Regions from separate parts of the Homo sapiens genome. Here region 1 is linked to region 2. The links come from fine-mapping of genetic effects on gene expression. A gene starts in region 2. The other region holds a variant in brackets. All regions are shown on one strand. Distances are between the middles of the regions.

Region 1 (2,914 bases), 41 kb after region 2:
CTAAACCTTACCTCTTGCTAATTTGCTGAGGGTTCATTTTAGATAAAAGGTGTTTAGGTTTTCATATTATGTTTGTAACTGTATAGCTATGATTCAGTTTCCTAAATGAAAAAAGAAACTGTTTTAATGTACAGACTATTTAGATTTGAAAAGACTGTGAGAGCTTTTTCTTTTATAGCAAGACAAGTCAAGAATAGAAGGCACACTGCGAGAGGGATGTCTTTTGAAAGAAAAGAAACACTACTTTTTATATTCTCAAATCACTGAAGAAAGCTTTAGACATAATTTCAAACACTAGCTCCTGTTTAATTCAGATGCACAGAATGCATTAAAACCACGAGTGTAGTGGACGTGATTTATACATTCTCTTAGCACAAATCAGTACCTATCTTCACTGTAATTAGACTTTTCTTCCTTTCTCCTTCTCAAAAGCTACTTTTGAAACCTTATGTTTTCCCTGGACATATTTTCTGTACTTCATAAAATAGCTCAGTTCTGCAACTAACTGCAAATATTTGCAAAAGGGAACAAATGTAAAATAAACGTCCCCTAATGCAGTGTTTGGTGAAGAAACATATGTCTGACATTAGTTGGTTAACCTGAAAAATAGTAAGAAACAACTCTACTTAGGGGAAAGGGGGTAGAATTGAGCCCGTACTGTGCAAATCAAGAGAAAGCTATAATTTACGCAATTTTTATTAAAGAGAATACAAGTGCTGTAGGCTTGGGGTGGTGCTAGGTCATATTTAAGCCTAATTGAGCTTTTTCTATATCATTAGAAAAATGGGCCAAGTTTCCTATATTATAGGGTAAATACAACATTTTCTTCCTGCAAATATTAAATACCACTGGCTTTTTAAGACGTAAACATCCAAATCTCAAATGTCTTTATTCATGCCAATGCAATACAATAAAAATATTCCCCATATACACTTAAATCACTGCAAGTAAGCCTTAGAATCCCCACAAGTATTATTACTTACTATATCTCAGAAACTTTCACACACATTATTTCAAATATAGTTCTCCCAAAAAAACCCTGCGGAGAGATACCTGTAAACCAAGGCTGAGACTAGCCTAGACAGTTCGTTCTTTAGACAACAGGAGTGGAGATTTGAACCCAGCTATTGTGACTCAAGCAAGCCTAGGGCATGTTTCTGAGATCTCTAAGGTGTGCGCTGTGAAACCGGTGGCTCATTTTATGGGTTGGATTTCCAAACACGACTATCACAATCATGCCAGGAATCAATGACTGACTTCTTGCCTCCGTGGCCTGAAGTTCTCCTCTGCACCTCCTACCTTTTTGCCATTTCAGTGATGCACCAAAGGGTGGAGTTGAAGAACATCAGTTTTGCTGCTGCTTGTTGGCAATACTCTCAAAAAGGCGTGGGGAGGGAGAG[G/A]TGTAACTCACCCCTGAAGTCAAGCCTGGAGATTACTTGTCAGGAATGTCAAAAGCATTTGTTAAGCAACCTTCTTCCTGGCATTTTAAGAAGAAAGCCGCATACATAGATCAAATCCCTTCCTTCAGAAACCTGTACTCTCTGAACAGAGCCTTGGAATTCAGCCTAGAGAAAGAATACTTGGTGGTTCATAGAACTTGGTTCACAAAAGAGTGCTTGCTGCCCACGCATTTTGCACAATGACTCCCAAACACACAGAATGCACATTGGCAACAATTTTACGCGTGTTTCCAAAAGTGCTGACTGGAATTGAAGGGACACATTTGGCACTTTTTTTTTTTGAAATGGGGTCTCTCTCTGTCACCCAGGCTGGAGTGCAGTGGCGCAATCTCGGCTCACTGCAACCTCCACCTCCCAGGTTCAAGCGATTCTCCTGCTTCAGCCTCTGGAGTAACTGGGACTACATGTGCCTGCCACCACGCCTTGCTAATTTTTTTTTTTTTTGTATTGTTAATAGAGACGGAGTTTCGCCATGATGGCCAAGCTGGTCTCAAACTCCTGACCTCAAGTGATCTGCCCACCCCCCGCCCCTCGGCCTCACAAAGTGCTGGGATTACAGGCGTGAGCCACTGTGCCTGGCCACATTTGTCAACTTTCATTGGTCAATGATTGATGCAAGCCAGAATAAGAATAGATTGGGCCGGGTGCAGTGGCTCACACCTGTAATCCCAGCACTTAAGGAGGTCGAGAGAGCAGATTGCTTGAGACCAGCAATCTGAGATCAGCCTGAGCAACACAGGAAGACCCTGTCTTCACAGAAAAATGAAAAAAATTAGGCCAGGTGCTATGGCTCACACCTGTAATCACAGCACTTTGGGAGGCTGAGGTGGGTGGATCACCTGAGGTCAGGGGTTTGAGACCAGCCTGGGCAACATGATGAAACCTGTGTCTACTAAAAATACAAAAAATAGCTGGGTGTGGTGGTGCACCCCTGTAATCCTAGCTACTCAGGAGGCTGAGGCATGAGAATCACTTGAACCCAGGAGGCGGAGGTTGCAGTGAGCCGAGATCACACCACTGCACTCCAGCCTGGGCGACAGAGTGAGACTATGTCTCAAAAAAATTAAATTAAAATTAAAATTGAGCCTGATGTGGTGGCACATGCCTGTAGTTCCAGCTATGCAGGAAGTTAAGATGGGAGGATCCCTTGAGCTTGGGAGATCAAGGCTGCAGTGAGCTGTGATTGTAACTACTGCATTCTAGCCTAAGAAACAGAAAGAGACACTGTCTCAAAAAAAAAAAAAAAAAAAAAACAAGAAAAAAAAAGAAAGAAAAAAACAGATCAGAGGCCCTGGCCTGGGGTCAGTTTCTCCAGAAAGGCCTGCACAATGGAGTTTTCATGTAAAAAATTTCTTACATCCTGATTTTAAAAAATCAGATGATCAGGAAACATTGAGTTCCGATTCCTTTGTTACAACCTCCACTAAAGCTAAGTAACAGCTGCTGTATTAAGA
Region 2 (2,914 bases):
CGTGAGTGTAACTCACTTCCTGGTATGTCTCCTTTCCTTTTGGCCTACATCCTTTGTCTGTTAGGTGCTTCCACATCCTTATGTCTTAAATGGCCAAAATACGTCACCCCCACTGCCAAAACACACAGGTCACTCGAGGTCACAATCTGGAACATAGGCTGGCCATTGTTCAGCACACATTCTTGATCTAAATCAATCTCAAACCTTGCTGGAATGCCCTGTAAACTGGGGCAAAGTATGGTCACCAGACTAACCATTGTCCTTTTTTACCCCTCCTGTGACGGGGCTACTACAGGTTACAAAATCGCGCTCTTCCTCCTAGCTACTGTGTTACTCTGAGATATCTGACATCGCAGAGCTAATGTTGCCTAAATTATTTTCCCATCCTCTTTTTTTTTTTTTTTTCGGACATCATGCCTCCTATTTTCACTCTCTGGGAACTCTGCCAGTTTTTCAAGGACTGGGTAAAGAACAAAATAAATATTTGTAGGTGGTTTAAAAGGAGAAGTATGTTGGTTGTAACTCTGCCTGTCCAAAGAAATGCATTTTCACTGTCTTTCAGATTTTTGGAGTCGTTAACTGGGAGAGCTTCAGAAGATTGACTTTACTAGTTTACCTTTCAGATTTGTGATTAAGGGCTGGGTGTGTGTGTGTGTGTGTGTGTGTGTGTAAGTGTGTTGGGGGAGGGAGGAGTCTGAGAAAGTGAGCAAGTACGTAGAAACTTTTTTTTAAAAAGTCCAGATTAAGTGATTGAAATCGACTGTGTGCAAATGACGCTATACCTCTTCATAGATGTTAATCGGGCCCTAAAAAGTTAGTGCCGGAAAGTGCTTACTTACAACACTCAGCATATACTCTTTCTTTCAAATTGTTTGGGATTTTTTTTTAAGGGAGTTCACTGAAATTTGGGAGGTTCAACAGGTTGCTGTTTTTTAATATGTGGATCACCCGATTTGGGAGGCTCACTCTGCCTCTGAGATTAAAGAGATGAGGGCACTGGCTCCCAGCGAAGGCTCTCGGCCTTAATCATGTGTGAAATGTTTTCCTTCCTCGGCTGCAGAGCCTCGGTGGTTTGCAGCAGTGGAACCAGGCAGGCCCAGTTGTGGGTAGGAGAGGCCGTCACCTGTTGAGGCCTCCCCCCCACACCCCCGCATCGCCCTGCCCTGGCAGAGCCCAGCCCCCAGTCCCCGGAGAGCGCGCCTGAGGACGGACGGACGGACGGACGGACAGACCTAGGGACGGAGGGCCAGGGGCAGGGGAGATCCAAGAGGCCCCGCGCTGGAATGCAGTTTTCTCGGGCGAGGGAGACTTTGCACCGGAGTGGAAAATAGTTTGGGGTGGGGTTTCGCACCGTCCCCTCCTCCCCAGCCCCGGGCCCCCTCCCAGGCGCTTTCTGGGAGCTTTTAGAACTGCGCTCTGAAGTTTCCAGAGAGCGAGGAGCTTTTGCGGCAGGCAGAGACAATGGAAGAAAATGAAAGCCAGAAATGTGAGCCGTGCCTTCCTTACTCAGCAGACAGAAGACAGATGCAGGGTAAGTAACAGACCCATTCAAAGATGGAGTTACAGGGACGCGTGCCCCTTGCCGCTTGCTGCTTTTTATAAACTGCAGCTCTGGGACCCGGCAAAGGAAAAAAAAAAAAAAGGCAATTTCTTGGGATGGTACATTTTCCAAACTGAGTAGAGCATAGAGAACTGTGATTTCTTAGGCTTGACTTTATCTCTGGCACGATTTTCTTAAGCAGCAAAAGAGGTGGTGGGGTGATGTCACATTTGTAGTGCAGTGAGCCATCAGCATGAGCTGTATCTCTAAGCAATGACAAATAAATCACTAAGCAGCTTTTAATCATTTCCCCCCGGGGCTCCAGCCACGGGAGAAAGGAGCTGTTTTTGTGAAACTGTCTCTAGGACCGCAGCTTCCATTCATTGGTTGGGGGATTCCATGTGGCAGATGCATGCTGGCTGCAAAGTTTGTGCAGAATTTTAGAGTTAAATCACAGAAACCAGGCATGTTTTATTTTACAGATCCGAGCAGCAGGGGAGGGCTTGAGCATCTGGGTGATAGATAGAACTCTGGATCTTCTTTTATGTTTTAATTCAAAACTTGGGAGTTGTTGGACAATTTTGGTAAATTTTCTCCAGGCAGTTTCCCTTTAATTGTGTTTATAATAGACTTGTCTTTTCCGTAGGGAATTTCCAGAAGCTTATGTTGTTCCAAAGAAATTTCGCACCGGGTTGGGTGGCCAGAGGAGGTCCCTGCTCTCTGGCATCTGATGCCTGTGATGCCAAGAGCTGATTCTGTGGGATCCTATAGGCAGCATGTTCATAAACCACACAGCCCTGGACCACCCGCCCCACCCTCCCTCAGGTTCATGCAGGGGCCAGTACACAACAAAAAGACGTGCGGGAGTGCAGTGCTGTGCGTGGGAGTAGGGATTATGCACAGGGGAAAAGGTGTGTGTTTTATGAAAATGTGAAAGGGAAGTAACACATGACTCATCCACGCTGAAAATGCAAAGCTAAGCCAGTCAGGAGAACTTACAATGACAAGAGATAGAAATCCCCCAGTGAAATGCAGAAAACTTGAAGTTTTGTAATGGCTGGAGAATCCCTGAGTCTGAACAGTCATCTGTCGAAGTGTCTGCCTTCGTGCTGCCAAAGCACAGCACTCTCCTTCAGGCTACCGGGGTCAGTGGCATCCAGTGGAAGATAAGGCTACCTCGTCCCCCTGACCCCCGCAACCCCCCACCCCCATTTTCTAGGACAGGATCCTACTTCAGGAATTCAACCTCTGGGCCTGTCCTGAAAGAGATGACTCAGATTCTAGAGGGGCCATTAGAAAGGGATCCATTTAAGAAATGACTTTCCAACAATCAGGGCAATTCAGAGGCTTCAGAGGCTAGGATGGTCAGCCTGA

Alleles and levels. Positions count from the first base shown, and alleles are read on the strand shown. Sizes are in standard deviations (SD) of each study's normalised expression.
For the expression in esophagus mucosa of the gene that starts at base 1,406 in region 2, A is the low allele of the variant in region 1 and G is the other (small effect, 0.28 SD a copy in GTEx).

Evidence for each region.
Region 1: its variant is fine-mapped to the expression of KIAA1217 in esophagus mucosa (GTEx, PIP 0.90).

Annotation. Positions count from the first base shown.
Region 1 is chr10:24,248,710-24,251,623 of GRCh38, forward strand. All of the region lies in intron 2 of KIAA1217, which reads left to right. Among named protein-coding and RNA genes, the nearest start is that of MIR603, 26 kb to the right of the region's middle. The variant G/A (reference allele first, on the strand shown) is at 1,401.
Region 2 is chr10:24,207,733-24,210,646 of GRCh38, forward strand. KIAA1217 reads left to right here and starts at 1,406. Exons shown (of 21, transcript NM_019590.5): 1 at 1,406-1,531. The coding sequence starts at 1,462. RefSeq lists enhancers at 1,592-2,791, 2,165-2,224 and a silencer at 1,825-1,874.